Linked DNA regions of Homo sapiens: region 2 is linked to region 1. Evidence: fine-mapped expression QTL. A gene starts in region 1. The other region holds a variant in brackets. All regions are shown on one strand. Distances are from middle to middle. Region 1 holds the start of ICAM4 (intercellular adhesion molecule 4 (Landsteiner-Wiener blood group)). Region 2 holds the start of FDX2 (ferredoxin 2).

Region 1 (9,375 bases):
GGTATCAAATGCAGGACCCCCCCGGTCCTGATGCTTTTTTTTTTTTTTTTTTTTTCCTCTGAGAGAGACTCTCACTCTGTCACTCAGTCTAGAGTACAGTGGCGCGATCTCAGTTCACTGCAATCTCTGCCTCCTGGGCTGAAGTAATCCTTTCCTCACAAGTAAACCTCAGCCTCTCAAGTAGCTGGGACTACAGGCACACAACACCACGCCTGGCTAATTTTTGTATTTTTAGGTAGAGACGGGGTTTCACTATATTGGCCAGGCTGGTCTTGAACTCCTGACCTCAGGTGATCCGCCTGCCTCGGCCCCCCAAAGTGTTGGGATTACAGGCGTGAGCCACCACACGCAGCCTTTTTGTTATTAGACTCTGTCATTACTGACTTTTTTTTTTTTTTAATAGAAACAGGGTCTTTCTTTCCCAGGCTAAAGTACAGTGGCATGATCACAGTTCACTATAGCCTTAAACTCCTGGGCTCAAGTGATCCTCCTGCCTCAGCCTCCCAAGTAGCAGGGACTACAGGTGTGCACCACCACACCCAGTTAACCATTCATTCATTCATTCATTCATTTATTTTGAGATGGAGTCTCGCTCTGTCACCTAGGCTGGAGTGCAGTGGCACGATCTCAGCTCACTGCAACCTCCACCTCCCAGGTTCAAGAGATTCTCCTGCCTCAGCCTCCCGAGTAGCTGAGACTACAGGCGTGCACCACCATGCCAGACTAATTTTTGTATTTTTAATAGAGACGGGGTTTCACTCTGTTGGTCAGGCTTATCTCGAACTCCTGACTTCGTGGATCCACCCTCCTTGGCCTCCCAAAGTGCTGGGATTAAAGGCGTGAGCCACCGCGCCCTGCCAACCTTTTTTTAATTTTTCTTAGAGATGGGGGTCTCCCTATGTTGCCCAGGCTTGTCTTGAACTCCTGGCCTCAAGTGACCCTCTTGCCTTGGCCTCACAAAGTGCTAGGATTACAGCCTGAGCCATCACACCTGGCCAACAGGTTTTTTTTTTTGTTTTGTTTTGTTTTTTAAAGAATGTCTAGGCCAGGCTCATTTACTTTCACCTGTAATCCCAGCACTTTGGGAGGCCGGGGTGGGCAGATCACTTGAGGTCAGGAATTCGAGACCAGCCTGGGCAACATGCTGAAACCCCGTTTCTACTAAAAATACAAAAATTAGCTGGGTGTGGTGACACGTGCCTGTAATCCCAGCTACTCAGGAGGTTGAGGCAGGAGAATTGCTTGAACCCAGGAGGCAGAGGTTGCAGTGAGCCAAGATCATGCCATCACCCTCCAGCCTGGGCGACAGAAGGAGACTCAGTCTAAAAACTTAATTAATTAATTAATTAAAAATAAAAATACAAAAATTAACCTGGTGTGGTGGTGTGTGCCTGTAATCTAAGCTACTCAGGAGGCTGAGGCAGGAGAATCCCCTGAATCCCAGAGGCAGAGGTTGCAGTGAGCCAAGATCGAGCCACTGTTTGCCCAGTCTAGTGCACTGGGCTGCTGAATTTATTTGACCAGACACCTAGCAATAGACTTTGAAGTTCTTTTCCACTTTTCACTCTAAGATGCTGCTGTCATGAATAAGGAATATTTTGATCCCCTTCACAAACACTCGGGGCCCTCTTACCAGTTTTCACTGAAGATCTTGACATTCCTATCTGCTTAGGTGTCTGGGCGTGTTTGGGGGAGATACTGAAGAGGTAGGGCTCCCAGGCAGGTGCAGTTCGTCTGTTAGGCAGGCAGCAAGGTCCACTTCACCAGACACCCCCACCTCTGTTTTCCTGCAGGGACTCCAGAACGGGTGGAACTGGCACCCCTCCCCTCTTGGCAGCCAGTGGGCAAGAACCTTACCCTACGCTGCCAGGTGGAGGGTGGGGCACCCCGGGCCAACCTCACCGTGGTGCTGCTCCGTGGGGAGAAGGAGCTGAAACGGGAGCCAGCTGTGGGGGAGCCCGCTGAGGTCACGACCACGGTGCTGGTGAGGAGAGATCACCATGGAGCCAATTTCTCGTGCCGCACTGAACTGGACCTGCGGCCCCAAGGGCTGGAGCTGTTTGAGAACACCTCGGCCCCCTACCAGCTCCAGACCTTTGGTGAGGATTGAAGAAGCCAGCAGGGAGAAGGTGGGGGTGGGGTATCCTGCAATGCGGTGCCTGTGGCCACAGGATCTTTTGAGATGGGTGTGGCCCCGGCTAAGGGGTGCATGTGTTCTAGGCGTATGTGACCTAGGCTGCTGAGTGGCCCTGGAAGAGGATCTCGCAGGAGGGGGAATGAAATGCCCCAGAGAAGGGCTTCGGGACGTCCATCCCTGTCTGCTCACACCTTTCTTCTCTCCCTAGTCCTGCCAGCGACTCCCCCACAACTTGTCAGCCCCCGGGTCCTAGAGGTGGACACGCAGGGGACCGTGGTCTGTTCCCTGGACGGGCTGTTCCCAGTCTCGGAGGCCCAGGTCCACCTGGCACTGGGGGACCAGAGGTTGAACCCCACAGTCACCTATGGCAACGACTCCTTCTCGGCCAAGGCCTCAGTCAGTGTGACCGCAGAGGACGAGGGCACCCAGCGGCTGACGTGTGCAGTAATACTGGGGAACCAGAGCCAGGAGACACTGCAGACAGTGACCATCTACAGTAAGAAGGGGCAGGGGCGGAGTGGGGCTTCTTGGGGGTGTGACCTGAACCCGGGGCGGGGCTCACTGTGTGCCTATTCCAGGCTTTCCGGCGCCCAACGTGATTCTGACGAAGCCAGAGGTCTCAGAAGGGACCGAGGTGACAGTGAAGTGTGAGGCCCACCCTAGAGCCAAGGTGACGCTGAATGGGGTTCCAGCCCAGCCACTGGGCCCGAGGGCCCAGCTCCTGCTGAAGGCCACCCCAGAGGACAACGGGCGCAGCTTCTCCTGCTCTGCAACCCTGGAGGTGGCCGGCCAGCTTATACACAAGAACCAGACCCGGGAGCTTCGTGTCCTGTGTGAGTGGGGCTGCTGGTCAATGGCCCCTATCCCCCAAGGCCCAATCTCCCTGAAGGTCCCATAAGGTCTTGCCTCCAAGTCCTGCCCCCACCCACCTCCATGTCATCTCATCGTGTTTTTCCAGATGGCCCCCGACTGGACGAGAGGGATTGTCCGGGAAACTGGACGTGGCCAGAAAATTCCCAGCAGACTCCAATGTGCCAGGCTTGGGGGAACCCATTGCCCGAGCTCAAGTGTCTAAAGGATGGCACTTTCCCACTGCCCATCGGGGAATCAGTGACTGTCACTCGAGATCTTGAGGGCACCTACCTCTGTCGGGCCAGGAGCACTCAAGGGGAGGTCACCCGCAAGGTGACCGTGAATGTGCTCTGTGAGTGAGCCGGCGGGCAGAGCTGGGTGGGGGCAGGGGCCATGGACCTAATGCAATCCTCACCGCCTGTTGTATCCTCCCCACAGCCCCCCGGTATGAGATTGTCATCATCACTGTGGTAGCAGCCGCAGTCATAATGGGCACTGCAGGCCTCAGCACGTACCTCTATAACCGCCAGCGGAAGATCAAGAAATACAGACTACAACAGGCCCAAAAAGGGACCCCCATGAAACCGAACACACAAGCCACGCCTCCCTGAACCTATCCCGGGACAGGGCCTCTTCCTCGGCCTTCCCATATTGGTGGCAGTGGTGCCACACTGAACAGAGTGGAAGACATATGCCATGCAGCTACACCTACCGGCCCTGGGACGCCGGAGGACAGGGCATTGTCCTCAGTCAGATACAACAGCATTTGGGGCCATGGTACCTGCACACCTAAAACACTAGGCCACGCATCTGATCTGTAGTCACATGACTAAGCCAAGAGGAAGGAGCAAGACTCAAGACATGATTGATGGATGTTAAAGTCTAGCCTGATGAGAGGGGAAGTGGTGGGGGAGACATAGCCCCACCATGAGGACATACAACTGGGAAATACTGAAACTTGCTGCCTATTGGGTATGCTGAGGCCCCACAGACTTACAGAAGAAGTGGCCCTCCATAGACATGTGTAGCATCAAAACACAAAGGCCCACACTTCCTGACGGATGCCAGCTTGGGCACTGCTGTCTACTGACCCCAACCCTTGATGATATGTATTTATTCATTTGTTATTTTACCAGCTATTTATTGAGTGTCTTTTATGTAGGCTAAATGAACATAGGTCTCTGGCCTCACGGAGCTCCCAGTCCTAATCACATTCAAGGTCACCAGGTACAGTTGTACAGGTTGTACACTGCAGGAGAGTGCCTGGCAAAAAGATCAAATGGGGCTGGGACTTCTCATTGGCCAACCTGCCTTTCCCCAGAAGGAGTGATTTTTCTATCGGCACAAAAGCACTATATGGACTGGTAATGGTTACAGGTTCAGAGATTACCCAGTGAGGCCTTATTCCTCCCTTCCCCCCAAAACTGACACCTTTGTTAGCCACCTCCCCACCCACATACATTTCTGCCAGTGTTCACAATGACACTCAGCGGTCATGTCTGGACATGAGTGCCCAGGGAATATGCCCAAGCTATGCCTTGTCCTCTTGTCCTGTTTGCATTTCACTGGGAGCTTGCACTATGCAGCTCCAGTTTCCTGCAGTGATCAGGGTCCTGCAAGCAGTGGGGAAGGGGGCCAAGGTATTGGAGGACTCCCTCCCAGCTTTGGAAGCCTCATCCGCGTGTGTGTGTGTGTGTATGTGTAGACAAGCTCTCGCTCTGTCACCCAGGCTGGAGTGCAGTGGTGCAATCATGGTTCACTGCAGTCTTGACCTTTTGGGCTCAAGTGATCCTCCCACCTCAGCCTCCTGAGTAGCTGGGACCATAGGCTCACAACACCACACCTGGCAAATTTGATTTTTTTTTTTTTTCCAGAGACGGGGTCTCGCAACATTGCCCAGACTTCCTTTGTGTTAGTTAATAAAGCTTTCTCAACTGCCTCAGCCTTGTGTGAGTTGAGGGGAGGTGTCACATCCAGCTGGAGTCCTTTCTAAGCAGCCACAGCCTGATCCTCCCACTTCCTCCCCCAAGAAAACATTGTGGGTTGATGGCCATACCCTGAGGTTCTGGTCCAAATCGGACTTTCTATGACCTTCTGGGTCTCTAGTGAAAACTAAAGACTCCTCTCCAGAAAAAAACATTTGGTTTCTAATGAGGCCTGGAATCTTATTCTTGACCTGGGGAGCGGAATCCCTTTTTGCAGTACTCCCGGGCCCTCTGTTGGGGCCTCCCCTTCCTCTCCAGGGTGGAGTCGAGGAGGCGGGGCTGCGGGCCTCCTTATCTCTAGAGCCGGCCCTGGCTCTCTGGCGCGGGGCCCCTTAGTCCGGGCTTTTTGCCATGGGGTCTCTGTTCCCTCTGTCGCTGCTGTTTTTTTTGGCGGCCGCCTACCCGGGAGTTGGGAGCGCGCTGGGACGCCGGACTAAGCGGGCGCAAAGCCCCAAGGGTAGCCCTCTCGCGCCCTCCGGGACCTCAGTGCCCTTCTGGGTGCGCATGAGCCCGGAGTTCGTGGCTGTGCAGCCGGGGAAGTCAGTGCAGCTCAATTGCAGCAACAGCTGTCCCCAGCCGCAGAATTCCAGCCTCCGCACCCCGCTGCGGCAAGGCAAGACGCTCAGAGGGCCGGGTTGGGTGTCTTACCAGCTGCTCGACGTGAGGGCCTGGAGCTCCCTCGCGCACTGCCTCGTGACCTGCGCAGGAAAAACACGCTGGGCCACCTCCAGGATCACCGCCTACAGTGAGGGACAGGGGCTCGGTCCCGGCTGGGGTGAGGGGAGGGGGCTGGAAGAGGTGGGGGAAGGGTAGTTGACAGTCGCTCTATAGGGAGCGCCCGCGGACCTCACTCAGAGGCTCCCCCTTGCCTTAGAACCGCCCCACAGCGTGATTTTGGAGCCTCCGGTCTTAAAGGGCAGGAAATACACTTTGCGCTGCCACGTGACGCAGGTGTTCCCGGTGGGCTACTTGGTGGTGACCCTGAGGCATGGAAGCCGGGTCATCTATTCCGAAAGCCTGGAGCGCTTCACCGGCCTGGATCTGGCCAACGTGACCTTGACCTACGAGTTTGCTGCTGGACCCCGCGACTTCTGGCAGCCCGTGATCTGCCACGCGCGCCTCAATCTCGACGGCCTGGTGGTCCGCAACAGCTCGGCACCCATTACACTGATGCTCGGTGAGGCACCCCTGTAACCCTGGGGACTAGGAGGAAGGGGGCAGAGAGAGTTATGACCCCGAGAGGGCGCACAGACCAAGCGTGAGCTCCACGCGGGTCGACAGACCTCCCTGTGTTCCGTTCCTAATTCTCGCCTTCTGCTCCCAGCTTGGAGCCCCGCGCCCACAGCTTTGGCCTCCGGTTCCATCGCTGCCCTTGTAGGGATCCTCCTCACTGTGGGCGCTGCGTACCTATGCAAGTGCCTAGCTATGAAGTCCCAGGCGTAAAGGGGGATGTTCTATGCCGGCTGAGCGAGAAAAAGAGGAATATGAAACAATCTGGGGAAATGGCCATACATGGTGGCTGACGCCTGTAATCCCAGCACTTTGGGAGGCCGAGGCAGGAGAATCGCTTGAGCCCAGGAGTTCGAGACCAGCCTGGACAACATAGTGAGACCCCGTCTATGCAAAAAATACACAAATTAGCCTGGTGTGGTGGCCCGCACCTGTGGTCCCAGCTACCCGGGAGGCTGAGTTGGGAGGATCCTTTGAGCCCTGAAAGTCGAGGTTGCAGTGAGCCTTGATCGTGCCACTGCACTCCAGCCTGGGGGACAGAGCACGACCCTGTCTCCAAAAATAAAATAAAAATAAAAATAAATATTGGCGGGGGAACCCTCTGGAATCAATAAAGGCTTCCTTAACCAGCCTCTGTCCTGTGACCTAAGGGTCCGCATTACTGCCCTTCTTCGGAGGAACTGGTTTGTTTTTGTTGTTGTTGTTGTTTTTGCGATCACTTTCTCCAAGTTCCTTGTCTCCCTGAGGGCACCTGAGGTTTCCTCACTCAGGGCCCACCTGGGGTCCCGAAGCCCCAGACTCTGTGTATCCCCAGCGGGTGTCACAGAAACCTCTCCTTCTGCTGGCCTTATCGAGTGGGATCAGCGCGGGCCGGGGAGAGCCACGGGCAGGGGCGGGGTGGGGTTCATGGTATGGCTTTCCTGATTGGCGCCGCCGCCACCACGCGGCAGCTCTGATTGGATGTTAAGTTTCCTATCCCAGCCCCACCTTCAGACCCTGTGCTTTCCTGGAGGCCAAACAACTGTGGAGCGAGAACTCATCTCCAAAATAACTTACCACGCTGGAGTGAGACCACGAATGGTGGGGAGGGGAGGGTCCCACGGACATATTGAGGGACGTGGATACGCAGAAGAGGTATCCATGTGGTGGCAGCCGGGAAGGGGTGATCAGATGGTCCACAGGGAATATCACAAACTCGAATTCTGACGATGTTCTGGTAGTCACCCAGCCAGATGAGCGCATGGAGTTGGGGGTGGGGGGTGTCAAAGCTTGGGGCCCGGAAGCGGAGTCAAAAGCATCACCCTCGGTCCCTTGTTCTCGCGTGGATGTCAGGGCCCCCACCCACCGAGCAGAAGGCGGACTCAGGGGCGCTCCAGGGTGGCTCGAGCTCACACACGCTGAGTAGACACGTGCCCGCTGCACCCTGGGTAAATACAGACCCGGAGCCGAGCGGATTCTAATTTAGACGCCCGCGAACGCTGCGCGCACGCACACGTGTCCTCGGCTCGCTGGCACTTTCGTCCCGCCCCCTCCGTCGCGTGCGGGAGCTGACCCGGAGGGGTGCTTAGAGGTATGGCTCCGCGGGGTCAAAAGGAGAAGGATCAGTGAGAGAGGCATCCCCACACCCTCCCCTAGAACTGTCCTTTCCCCATCCAGTGCCTCCCAAATCTCTCTTAGTCCCCAAATGTATCCCCGCCCTAAGGGGCGCTGGTGGGAGGAGCTAAATGTGGGGGCGGGGCTCGGAGTCCAGCTTATTATCATGGCATCTCAGCCAGGGCTGGGGTAGGGGTTTGGGAAGGGCAACCCAGCATCCCCCGATCCCAGAGTCGCGGCCGGGGATGACGCGAGAGAGCGTGGTCGCCCCCAGAAGGCCCTGGGCCATCATGCCGGCCTCCACGTAGACCCCAGGGGTCGCTCACTCCTGCCAGCTCGCCTTCACCAAGGCCAGGAGCTTAGCGCACGCTCGCCTCCCGCCCCCCCGCCGCCTCTGCCGCCGCCCCCTCCTTGGAAACCAAGTTACCAACGTTAAACCAATCCCCAAGCGCAACTCTGCCTCCCCCACACCCCACCCGCCGCGCCGCGCGGAGCCGTCCTCTAGCCCAGCTCCTCGGCTCGCGCTCTCCTCGCCTCCTGTGCTTTCCCCGCCGCGGCGATGCCAGGGCCTTCGCCAGGGCTGCGCCGGGCGCTACTCGGCCTCTGGGCTGCTCTGGGCCTGGGGCTCTTCGGCCTCTCAGGTAAGAGCCCCGCTCTGGTTCGGGGTGGACAGGGCGGGGGCGGAGTCCCTGGACCTGAGAAACGGCCTCCTGTCCCTCCCAGCTCTGCCCTCGCCTCGCTCCCACGCCTCTGCCCCCACCTCGAGCCTGAGTCTTCTCCCCTTCCCCCTCCTCCCCAACACACACCCGAGCCCCAGCTTCCTGACTCCTCGATAGCCCCTACCCGCTTCGAGATCCTAGGTGTTCTTCCGCACCCAACCCTTCGCCCTGGAGACCCAGTGTCTCTCCTGTCCGCTCCCCGGGTACCTCCTTACGCTGTGCTGTGCACCATGGTCCACGGACTGGCATCTTCCCCACTCGCGGTCCGCGAAGACTCCATCTCTCCAACTACCCTGACTCAGAGGCGCTGTTCCCGCTCCACCCAGAGCCCTGGCAACCGGGTCCCTCAGCTGTTCCCGCGGTTCCTTCCATGAGCCCAGCCTTGCGTCCCGGCTCCGTGTTCTTCACCGGGTGTAGGGTCCTTCCTGATCCTTGACCCAGCCTCGTCTCTCCTTTGCCCTTGCCGCAAACGCACTCTCCTCGTATCCCGGCATTCTGCCAGGACCCTGAGAACTGGTTCATCCCCCATCCCCCATCCCGGGTCCCCTTCTCTCAGCCTTGCTGTGTTCATCCAAGAACCCACCTTTCCTCTCCTCTACGCCCTCCCCCCATGCTTTCCCGCCGCTCCATCGGCGCTTTGGAGACCATGGCTCTCTGCTACCACGTCCCAGAGACACCCTCGAGGTTTAGACTCTGGGAGTGCGCCTTTAAACCGGAGGCCTGGGCAGGACGCGGGACGCCTGGGTTCTTTCCCTGGCTGCAGCCTCTCCTCCTCCTCCCCGCCCTCTGAGAACCCTTGACTCGACATAGGGGCGCTAAGATGTCAGGGAGTTGGCTCCCCAGGCTCAGCCCGCGTTTC
Region 2 (10,788 bases), 33 kb after region 1:
CTGAGGTGGGAGGATCACTTGAACCCAGGAGTTCAAGGCTGCAGTGAGGTATGATTGCATCATGGCACTCCAGCATTGGCGACACAGCAAGGCTCCGTCTCTTGAAAAAAAAAAAGTGAGAAGTGCTATATATCATATCACACTGATAAGACAGAGTAACTAGGGCATGGGTACTTCAGCTGGGCTGAGGGGAATGGGATTGTTAGGGACATGACATTTACACTGAGGTCTGAAGGATGAGAAAGAGCCAGAATGTTTGCTGGGAAAGCACTTCAGACAGAGGGAACAGCAAATGTAAAGGCCCCGAAGCAGGAATGAGCTTGGTTGTTTGAGGAACCACAAGAAAGCCAGTGTGGGCTGGGCGCGGTGGCTCATGCCTGTAATCCCAGCATTTTGGGAGGCTGAGGCGGGTGGATCACCTTTCAGGAGTTTGAGACCAGCCTGGCCAATGTGGTGAAACCCCGTCTCTACTAAAAATACAAAAATTAGCTGGGCTTGGTGGTGGGCGCCTGTAATCCCAGCTAGTCTGGAGGCTGGGGCAGGAGAAACGCTTGAACCCGGGAGGTGGAGGTTGCAGTGAGCTGAGGTGCAGTAAGCCATTGCACTCCAGCCTGGGCAACAAGAGTGAAACTCCATCTCAAAACAACAACAACAAAAAGAAAGCCAATGTGGCTAGAATACAGGGAGGAAGGGGGAAGAGAACACAAAATCCTGGGAGCCAGGAGTCCTAGTGATCTCTAATAAATGCTTAACAAATAAGAGCTTGGCAACAGATGAGGCCATGGTGAGGGGTTTGGATTTTAGTCCATATTTGGTGGGAAAAAGACGTGAAGAGACACACCTAATTTGTGGGTTTTTTTTTTTTTTTTTTTGGACAAATGTATAAGGACCTCCTTAATTCCCTCTGCCCGGTTCCTACCTTCCAGGTCCACCCCGTGGCGCTGGGCCAGGTGAAGAACATTGTCCCCGACTCTGCCACTCACTGGGATCCGCTGGCCTGAGCGGTCTACGAACACCACGTTCACCCTGGGGACAGATGGAAGTGCGAATGCCGAACTGGATGATGGGCTCAGGGCCCGGGTAGAATCTAGGGTTAGGAAGTAGGAATTGAGGCTTGACGCACAGGTACTGAATAGGGCAAAGCAGAAGGGGGACCTCGAGATGAAGCTACAGGGCAAGATGGGGACCAGAGGAATTCCGTGGGATGAGGAATGGGGGACTTGGCCCCCTGCACTCACACGTCCCCGGGCCGCTCCGGGCCGCCCGCGTCCTCCTCTCCAGCCGGGCGCGAGCCTGGAAAACACGGTTCGGTGAGCGGCTGCGCCGAGCCCCGCCCCGCCGGCATCTGACGGATTAACGCTGCCCGCCCCGGGCGCCCCAGGTACCTGTCGCTTGAAACTTTCTGGTTGTCCCCAGCGCCACCCCCTCCCCCGACCCGGAAGTGCCCCCAGGTCTGTTCCACCAGGTGCCCCTGGCAGCCTGCAGTAGAACCCTGGCACTCACGCCTCCCCGGGCCATGGAGGCGGCCATGACATGCATCACGTGACTCACCGACTGAGCATGCGCCGCGCCAGGGAGGCGAGGGAAAGCCCATAATCAATGGAACATAAGCGCAGATGTTTGCTTAGGGCCTGCGGTGACCAGGTGGGAAGAGCAGGGCGGAATCCATCTCAGGTAAACCCGCGGGGCCATCCCAGACCTCCCACTCAAGCCCACTGTTTGTCCCAAGAACCAGCCAACTCTGATTTCTTTAAAACCATTTACTTACAAACTTTAATTCAGCAAAGGTCCGTGTGGGGAGACTGGGGTGGGGTCGGGGGAATAGTCCCCTTGGAGTGGATGTGGACCCCCAGAGTCAAGGGAGGGAAGCTGGTGGCCCAGTTGGCTGGGGGCAAGGCCCAGGGTCACCTCAGGTCGACAGGTCCTGCTGGTGGGCGGGCCCAGAGTTTATCTTCATGGAGTGCTGGTTTCTGGCACTGGGCTGGAAGGAGGCCAGCTCCAGGGATCTGGCCGGGGGTGGGCAGGCAGAATTCAAGAATTCATCTTCAACAAGCGAGTGACAGCAGAGGCTCCGGGAGATGGGCACAATGTCCGACTCCCACAGACAGACAGCAGGGGACTGGCAGAGAAAGCCCATCTCTGCACGGAGGCCCGGGTAGGAGGGGGTGGTGGGGCCGGTTCGCCAAGATGAAGGCTTTCCCCTTCTACTGTCCCCAGGGTGGAGATCCTGGGTAGGGTGGCCCAATCCCTAGGCCAGAGCTGTTTGGTCCATAGTCAAGCTCCCAGAGCTTGGCATCTGTGGCTCTGGCCAGCAGGGCCTGGGGCCCAGCTTTTAAGGCATCAGAAGGGGAGGGGGCTGCGGCAGGGACCCCGGGCCCCACGGCTGGGGTATAGGCCAGATGGGCAGGCAGGGGCAGGAGACAGCCATGCCTGCAGCAAATGTGGGAAAAACAGCTGTTTCAAACCGCAAGGTGTGGAATGGTGGCCCGGACAGGCCGGGCCTTGAAGGAATCAGAGCTGGGGGCTGTCCGGGGTGGTTTGAAAAATAAAACTTAGAAAAGGAAACAGAAGTCAGTTGTCAAAGTTAAAAAAAAAGGAGACAGTCTCTGTATCTTCACGGGAGGTCAGGGAAACCTCCAAGGCACTCGAAAGGCCAAAATTACAGGAGCAATGAGGCAGGAGGGCTCCGGAGAGACGGGCACAGCGGAGGAGGAGATGGGGGGAGGGAGGGAGAGCAGGCCGGGGCCCCTCTCTCTTAAGGCTGCAGGGTTTCAGCGTGGGGAGCAAGCCAGAGACATAATGAGGCCTCCAGACTCCCCCACACCCCTTGGGCTCCTGGGGCTCCGGCTGATTGGTCAGTAAAGTCTTTCAGAGATTTTTCTATTACCGAAAGAGAGAAAATGGTTTAAAAAAAACACAAAACAAAACATCAGAAAACCCAAAAGCGATTTGGTGCAGGCCCTTGAGTTATCTCTGGTGCCAGCCACTTAGAAAATCCTCTTCCGCTTCAGGTAGGAGTCCGCGTAGTGGCCGCCGAGGCCCTGGGAGTGCTGGCCCACATAGCTGCCTTCTGGGCTGGGCTCGGGCGAGGGCAGCAGGTGGGCAAAGCTGCGTTTCTGGCCGCCCAGTGGGGTCTGGAGACAGAGGGCAGGGCGGGGCGGGTCAGGGGCCGCTGGGGGGCCGGGGCTTCCCAGCCCTGCATGTCCCCACCCCCTGCCCGTACCTTCAGCAGGTGGCTGTGACCATTAGGCCCGGGGCTGAGGCCCAGGAGCCCTTCTCCGGACCCCAGCGGGGAAGAGCCGATTGCCTGGGAGAAATGGAGAGGTGGAACAGGTCACTCCCTGGGGGCCAGAGGAAGCACCCACCCCGCCCCCCTGCCACTGCCCCCCAGCCCTGAGGGAAAGCGAACAGTTTCAGGTTCAAATCTTGCTTCTGCTACTTTCTAGCTATAAGACCTAGGGCCAATTGCTCCATTTTATTTGAGCCTCGGTTTTCTCATCTGTCAGATGGGGCCAGTAGCACCCACAGCCTGGGCTGTAGAGAGAGGAAGTGACAGAAAGCCCGGAATGCTGGCAGTGCTAGGTGCTTGATGCAGAGTGGATGGAGGACAATAGGCTGTTGCTACTCCACCCTGAGCAAGACCAACCCCTGCCACCACCCCAGCTTTGGCCTGGGCACCGAGGGTTACAGAGCCCCGGTGGCAGGCACCCCCAAATCCTAGCTGTCCCAGGGGGCCTGTGCTTGGCCAGAGAGGTTCCTCACCTTACTGAGGTGGCTCTGCTTGAGGCCAGCCTGCAGGCCGCTGGTGAAGTAGGAAGTGGGCGAGCCTGAATAGAAGTGAGACAGGGGGCCCCCGCCACTCCCACCGCTGCTCCGTTCGCCGAAGCCACTGGGCGGGGGGGACATCTGTAGAAGAAGGGCCGGTGGAGTGAAGCAGACAATTGTAGTACCCAGCCCTTTGTATACAATCTTCCCTCTGCCTCCCAGGTTCAAGCGATTCTCCTGCCTCAGCCTCCCGAGTAGCTGGGATTACAGGCATGCGCCACCATGCCCAGCTAATTTTTTGTATTTTTAGTAGAGACGGGGTTTCTCCATGTTGGTCAGACTGGTCTCACACTCACGACCTCAGGTGATCCGCCCACCTCGGCCTCCCAAAGTGCTGGGATTACAGGCGTGAGCCACCATGCCCGGCAGTTCTGGGCTTTGCAAAGACTAGCTTTGGCTAATAGGACTGAGGAGAGCTGGCACGTGGGTACCCGCCTCCTCTTCCTCCTCCAGGAACCCAGGGATCATCACCGCACGAATGGGCACACAGAAACTGTTCCAGCCTGTGGACGCCAAATATGTGAGGCCACATAGCTCACTGAGACCCAGGTGAGTGCCGGGGACCGCCCACTGCCCCATAGAGTGGCAAGAAGTAATACAATGCCTGGCATGGTATGGTGGCTCATGCCTGTGATCCTAGCACTTTGGGAGGCCAAAGTGGGAGGATTGCTTGAGCCCAGGAGTTTGAGGCCACAGTGAGCTATCATGGAGCCACTGCACTCCAGCCTGGGCAACACAGTGAGATCCTGTCTTAAAAAAACCCACAAAGAACACACAAAATACAAGGTCTGCTGTTCCAGGCTACTAAGTCATGGCACAGCCTGTCATGTAGTAAAAGCTGATTGCTACACATGCCATACCAGGTGGCTCTTACCTTGTGTCGGCTGGGTCCGTGAGGCCCAAGGGCTGGTTCCCGTGGGTGGGAGAAGAGCCGCCGAGGTCCCATGTCCTGAATGAAAGCGGGAGAAGCACATTGGGTTGGAGTCTGTCCCAGCCTCACCCCTGGCTGAACTCCATGGCAGAGCTGTCATCAGGGAAGACAGTCCCCACCACTCTGGGACCAGGAAGAGGCAAATTTGGGGCTGGATGCAGCTTGGCAGGGATGGCTGCTGTGAAGGGGGGTGCCCCCCATGGGCCTAAGTGTTTGGAGTTTCCCAGGCAAGCTGGGAATTCGAGCTGTGTGGACTCTTGCAGTTTTCCTGTGTTGGCGTTAGTTCCTGTTGTTATTTGTTTGAAACACAGAGGGGGCCAAACATCACCCAGGTGACCTGTGGGCGGCCAGTTTGCAATTTCTTTCTTTTTTTTTTTTAAACGGAGTTTTGCTCTTGTTGCCCAGGCTGGAGTGTAATGGCACAATCTTGGCTCACCACAACCTCCGCCTCCCAGGTTCAAGTGATTCTCCTGCCTCAGCCTCCCTAGTAACTGGGATTACAGGCATGTCTACCACACCTGGCTAATTTTGTATTTTTAGTATAAAACATAAATTATATTTTATATTATATATGAAATATATATTTTATTATATATTTTATAATATATAATTTCTCCATGTTGGTCAGGCTGGTCTTGAACTCTTGACCTCAGGTGATCTGCCCGCCTCGGCCTCCCAAAGTGCTGGGATTATAGGCATGAGCCACCGTGCCTGGCCCAGTTTGCAATTTCTGACCTGCCAAGGAGGTTGGCATCATAGAAGGACCAAATCTCCAGGGGCACAGACAGGAATCAAAGGTGGGAGAGAGGGATAGAAAGGGCAAGCCCTGTCTCTGGGGAGAGACAGTGTGGCCTAAGTCCTCTTGGGAGAGAAAGACAGACGCAGGATGACAGACAGACTGAGACCCAAGATCCTCCAGGGCTCGAGAATGGACAGACAGGCAGGTGGACCGGAAGCAGGGGGTGATGTGCAGACAGACGGGAAACTTTAAGGGCATGAGGCTGGGCGCGGTGGCTCTTGCCTGTAATCCCAGTACTTTGGGAGGCTGAGGCGGGTGGCTCACTTGAGGTCAGGAGTTTGAGACCAGCCTGGACAACACAATGAGACTCCGTCTCTACCACAAATTTAAAAATTAGCTGGGCATGGAGGTGCGTGCCTGTGGTCCCAGCTCCTCAGGAGACTGAGGTGTGAGGATCGCTTGAGCCCAAGAGGTTGAGGCTGCAGTGAGCTATGATCGCACCACTGCACTCCAGCCAGGGCAGCAGAGGGAGACCCTGTCTC[T/TA]AAAAAAAAAAAAAAAAAAAAGCAGAGACCATATCTGGCACGTTCCCTGCCGCCTCCCTAGCACATGGCCTGGCATAGTCAATCCTAGAGAAATATCAGTTTGGAGAATGATTTGGCCTTAGGGGACAGAGAGCTGCAGCCAGGCACTCACCGAGGGGTAGTCGAAGCTGTAGCTGTCAGACAGTCCTGGTTCGGGGGGCAGGCGGGCGCTGCTGAGGGGGCTGAGCAGGCGGGACTTGAGCTGGAAGGCTTTGCTGCTGCTGCTGCCACCTCCAGGGGCTGGGGGGTTAGTTGGGGGGCCCTCAGCTGGGCGGCGGCTTCTCCCGGCGCCTCCCCAGCCCCGGGCCTCCTTACCCGCCAGGTTGCTGGCCGGGAGCAGGCTGTGTAGGTTCAGGTAGGGATTCAGGGGAATCCGGTAGTCCTTGGGGGGCTCCCCCAGCAGTGAGACCTGTGGCGGGAAGGCAGGATTCGAGAGGGCCCCCGGGAGAGGGAACCCTGCGGAACAGGAGGCTGGTGTGGTGCCGCGCGCAGGGCAGGGCCTTACCCCAGGGGGCGTCGGCAGAGGCCCACTGTCTTTCTGGAGGCCTCTGAGGCCAGAGCCTCGGAGCCCCACAGGGGCGGGGGGAGGAGTGAGCTGGGCCGCTGGGGGACCCAAGCCCAGGGCCTCCCGGTCACCCCCAGCAGGGCCAAGCACGGATGGCAGCAGGGGTGGTGGCTTCCCTCGCCGGGGCGGCAGCTCCGGGGGCAGGCCCCCTCCTAGGGAGGGAAGGAGGATTTCAGGGGCCCAGGCTCACAGGACCCCTCTCCCCAGGGCCCTCCAGCTCCCACCTGGACCAGGGCCCAGGGGTCAAGAGACAAATCCATGCTGGCCACTGAGCAGAGCTCATCCCTGGGCCCTGAGTGGAGGGCACCCAACTGATGGACAAGGGCGCTGGGACCCAGAGGTTGGGTCACTCACCCGAGGCCACGTAGCAGGGAAGGAAGGGGAAGTGGCTGGGGGACACCGTGTGGGCAGGGTCTGCGTTACCTGCAGGCAGCTCCCCGAGGAGGGGGTTGGCTGGCTGGGCCCCAGGCTGGAGGGCGCCCAGGGGTGAGTCTCCCAGGATGCCGGGCTTCTAGGGACAGAGCACAGACAGTTGCAGATGGGGGCAGGGTGGCCCAGGGAAGCAGACAGGTGTGGCCCAGAGTCTTGGCAGACACACCCCAACTCCAGGGCACGGCCGATCCTGGGCAGACAGGCACAGGGTTCCCCAGTGCCCGCCACACTCCAACTCTATCACTGTCCCATCAGCCATGGTGACCGAGGGTCTCCTGAGCTCCAGGCCCCAGTTCCCTGGCCAATGATTGCAGCACAGTATCAACTGCAGCCACATGGAATGGGACAGCCACACAGTGTTTCAGCCACTTTTAGTCACAGAAGGCCAGACCCACAGGCTCACATATTCTGTCAGTTACCACCAGACAGACACACCTGACTTAGAATCCAGGGAACCACACCAGACAGGACGGAGCATGGGTGTATGTCTATGTGTGTGTGTGTCTGTGTGTGTGTGTGCGTGTATATCTGTGTCTTTGTTTCTGTGTGCATGAGTCTGTCTTGTGTCTATATGTGTGTCTGTGTCTATGTGTGTGTCTTTGTCTTATGTCTTTGTGTGTCTATGTCTCTGTGTGTATATTTGCATCTTTGTATGTGTGAGTCTATATGTATACCTGTGTTTCTAGGTGTGCGTGTGTGTGTGTGCACACACTGAGGGGATAGACCTGGAGTTTTTTCCCAGGCATGTCTATAGAGCTTCCGAGCAGAGTCTATTCACAAACTGGTGCCCAGCAGCGGCGCTCCCAGCCCACACCCAGTTTCAGGCTGTAAATGGGCGTGTCCAGGTCCCCTGACCCCACCCCAGGCACCAAGTCCAGGGGCGCTCTCAGAATGGAGGGAAAGATGGCGAACCATCATGAGCAATTGCCAGAGGGGGATGGGGATGTGGGTGGGAAAGGCAGGGGTTTGGGGGAGTCGCCCTCACCCTGGTTCTGCGCCCCCAGGGCACAGCCAGAGGTCCCCCCACCCCACCGATCGCACCAGCTGTGTTGAAAAGAGCCTGTAGGGGCTGTAGAGCAGTGGGTGAGGGGGATGCGTGTGTTACCTTCTGGCCCTGGGTCTGCAGGGCGAGCTGCAACAGCGCCGTGGACAGGGCTGGCCCATTGAGCAGCGGCATGGCTGGGGGGGCACCCAGGAGGCCTGGAGGGAGACATAGGAGGATGTGTGGGGGTCCCTGTGTCCTCCCTGCCCCACCTCACGAAACACAGCCCTGAACCCATTGATGGGGCAGGAAACTGACACTCTGGGGCCGGGGGGTGGGCAGTGGACTTGCCCAAAGGAAGGGCCTAGAAGGGGCAGAGGCTACTCCAGTGAAGGTCAGCCCCCTCTTGTCAGCACCCCACCTCACTGCAGGCTGCTGTGTGGCCCTGGTCCCGGCCCCCAGTTGTGGACAGCAGCAGCCCCCGCTATGACTCCATACTCCCCCTCGGCCCTACTCCTGGGGCTCCTGTCACTGCAGCCAAGATGAGCAGTTTCGGGAAGTGCCGGGGGCAGCGCTGCAGCCCCTGTTCTGCACAGTGGGGCCCCTGTCCAGCCCCACCTTACCCTGCTTCCCCCCCGCACTGCCATGGAGCAGGGGGTTGAGCAGCAGCTGGAGGGACGCGGATGGGCCCAGGTTGTTGAGCAGCTGCAGGATGTTGGGCTCGGGGAGGAGTCCCTTCCCCCGATTGAGGGCCTGCAGGAAGGAACAGAAGCAGCTCAGAGTGCCGCTGGGGCCCTGACATCCCCATGGGGCTCCCATCCCCACCCCGCCACCTCTGCCCGCACAGGCTCACCGTGGCCTGGGCAGCGATGAGAGCGGCCAGCATACTGCGGCCGGGGGGCCCAGGGGCGCAGAAGGAGACTCGCAGGTGGCTGCCCCCCAGGGACAGGCCGTCCGCCTGCTGCTGTGCCTCCTCCGCCATCTCAGCCGTCTCATACTCCAGCACCGCGAAGCCCTTCAGCTGCCCATCCTGGCCGCACGCCAGCTGCCGGAGGAAGGCAGGCAGTCATGAGCATCTGGGCAGCAGTGACTGCACCACCCCGGGAAGTGACAACCGTAACCAGACTCAGCTGCCCCATAAGGGTGAACTCCACGCCAGGCCTCCACTGCCCTGTGCCTCATTCCTGCATCAGCTCATCTGATTTTCCCAATGACCCTGGGAGGCTGCATCATACCCATTTCTCAGAGAAGGCAACTGAGGCACGGAGAGGTCAGCGCACCCAAGGCCACACAGCTGGAGGGAGGGCGGAGCTGGGAGCCACCTCACCAACAAAGCCAAGGCCACGGGCGGATGCGGTGGCTCACACCTGTAATCCCAGCACTTTGGGAGGCCGAGGCGGGCAGATAACCTGAGGTCGGGAGTTCGAGACCAGCCTGACCAACATGGAGAAACCCCGTCTCTACTAAAAATACAAAATTAGCCAGGCGTGGTGGCACATGCCTGTATTCCCAGCTACTTGGGAGGCTGAGGCAGAGGCAAGAGAGTCACTTGAACCTGTGAGGCAGAGGTTGCGGTGGGCCGAGATCGCGCCACTGCACTCCAGCCTGGGCAACAAGAGCAAAACTCCATCTCAAAAAAAAAAAAAAAAAAGAGATAATCAGCAACGGGTGGGGAAGGAAGGGCTCTCGTTCCAGACAGTGGCCAAGCCAGGTAGCAGTGCTAAGGGAAGTGGTTGGGCTGGGCACCGGCACTTGCTGAATGCCCGGGCAGCAAAGGTGCAGGTAGCAGCCCTTCACCTCTGCCCACGCCCTGTGCCAAGGTCTGGGCACAGATCTCCCATAACCAAACCTGTCGGCTTTTGTTTTGTTTTGTTTTTTTTGAGACAGAGTCTTGCTCTGTCACCCCGGAGTGCAGTGATGTGAACTTAGCTTACCGTAACCTCCACCTCCTGGGTTCAAGTGATTCTCCTGCCTCAGCCTCCTGGTAGCTGGGATTACAGGTGTGCACCACCACGCCCAGCTAATTTTTGTATTTTTAGTAGAAATGAGGTTTCACCATGTCGGCAAGGCTGGTCTTGAACTCCTGACCTCAAGCGATCCGCCTGCCTTGGCCTCCCAAAGTGCTGGATTACAGGCGTGAGCCACTGTGCCCGGCCATAAACACACCCATCTTAGGGATGAACAGAGAGAGACTCAGAGGGGTCACAGAGTGATCAAGGCCACACAATTCCTAAGTCGAGGGACTGATGTGTGAACCTCAAGCTGCTTCACTGTCAAGCCCACCCTCCATTCAGCTGGGTCACCTAACATTAAAGGTGGGCTCCTCGGAGGACATCACTTCAACGCCTGCTACTCATCAGATGCTCAACAAATGTTTGGTGAGACCAGGCCCAGTGGCTCGAATCTATAATCCCAGCTCTTTGGGAGGCAAAGGCAGGAGGATCGTTTGAGCACAGGAGTTTCAGACCAGCCTGGGCAACATAGGGAGACCCCATCTTCACATAATTTTTTTTTTTTTTGAGGGAGTCTCGCTCTGTTGCCCAGGCTGGAGTGCGGTGGCATGATCTTGGCTCACTGCAACCTCCACCTCCCTGGTTCAATCAATTCTCCTGCCTCAGCTTCCCGAGTAGCTGGGATTAAAGGCACCTACCACCACGCCTGGCTAATTTTTTTTCTATTTTTAATAGAGACAGGGTTTTTGTTTTTTGTTTTGTTTTTTTTGAGACGGAGTCT

What was found. PIP is the estimated chance that this variant, and not a neighbour inherited with it, causes the effect.
Region 2: its variant is fine-mapped to the expression of ICAM4 in whole blood (INTERVAL, PIP 0.95).

Annotation. Positions count from the first base shown.
Region 1 is chr19:10,281,688-10,291,062 of GRCh38, forward strand. ICAM4 (intercellular adhesion molecule 4 (Landsteiner-Wiener blood group)) reads left to right here and starts at 5,268. Exons shown (of 3, transcript NM_001544.5): 1 at 5,268-5,719; 2 at 5,849-6,151; 3 at 6,299-6,833. The coding sequence starts at 5,326. The coding sequence ends at 6,417. It overlaps ICAM1 (intercellular adhesion molecule 1), which reads left to right. Exons shown (of 7, transcript NM_000201.3): 3 at 1,794-2,099; 4 at 2,346-2,633; 5 at 2,716-2,970; 6 at 3,096-3,341; 7 at 3,428-4,928. The coding sequence ends at 3,600. It overlaps ICAM5 (intercellular adhesion molecule 5), which reads left to right and starts at 8,265. Exons shown (of 11, transcript NM_003259.4): 1 at 8,265-8,438. The coding sequence starts at 8,357. LIMASI (lncRNA inflammatory and mucous response associated, antisense to ICAM1) reads right to left here and starts at 1,763. Exons shown (of 4, transcript XR_007067138.1): 1 at 1,634-1,763. It also overlaps ICAM4-AS1. RefSeq lists enhancers at 4,836-4,885, 4,940-5,909, 5,256-5,395 and a silencer at 7,120-7,189.
Region 2 is chr19:10,314,467-10,325,254 of GRCh38, forward strand. FDX2 (ferredoxin 2) reads right to left here and starts at 1,549. Exons shown (of 5, transcript NM_001397406.1): 1 at 1,386-1,549; 2 at 1,239-1,293; 3 at 920-1,026. The coding sequence starts at 1,530. RAVER1 (ribonucleoprotein, PTB binding 1) reads right to left here. Exons shown (of 13, transcript NM_133452.3): 4 at 8,909-9,100; 5 at 8,679-8,808; 6 at 8,179-8,273; 7 at 7,065-7,152; 8 at 6,582-6,793; 9 at 6,189-6,485; 10 at 4,700-4,774; 11 at 3,763-3,906; 12 at 3,224-3,307; 13 at 1,746-3,134. The coding sequence ends at 2,988. It overlaps FDX2-ZGLP1 (FDX2-ZGLP1 readthrough), which reads right to left and starts at 1,549. Exons shown (of 9, transcript NR_176052.1): 1 at 1,386-1,549; 2 at 1,239-1,293; 3 at 920-1,087. RefSeq lists silencers at 1,184-1,303, 2,437-2,628, 5,692-5,905. The variant T/TA (reference allele first, on the strand shown) is at 6,038.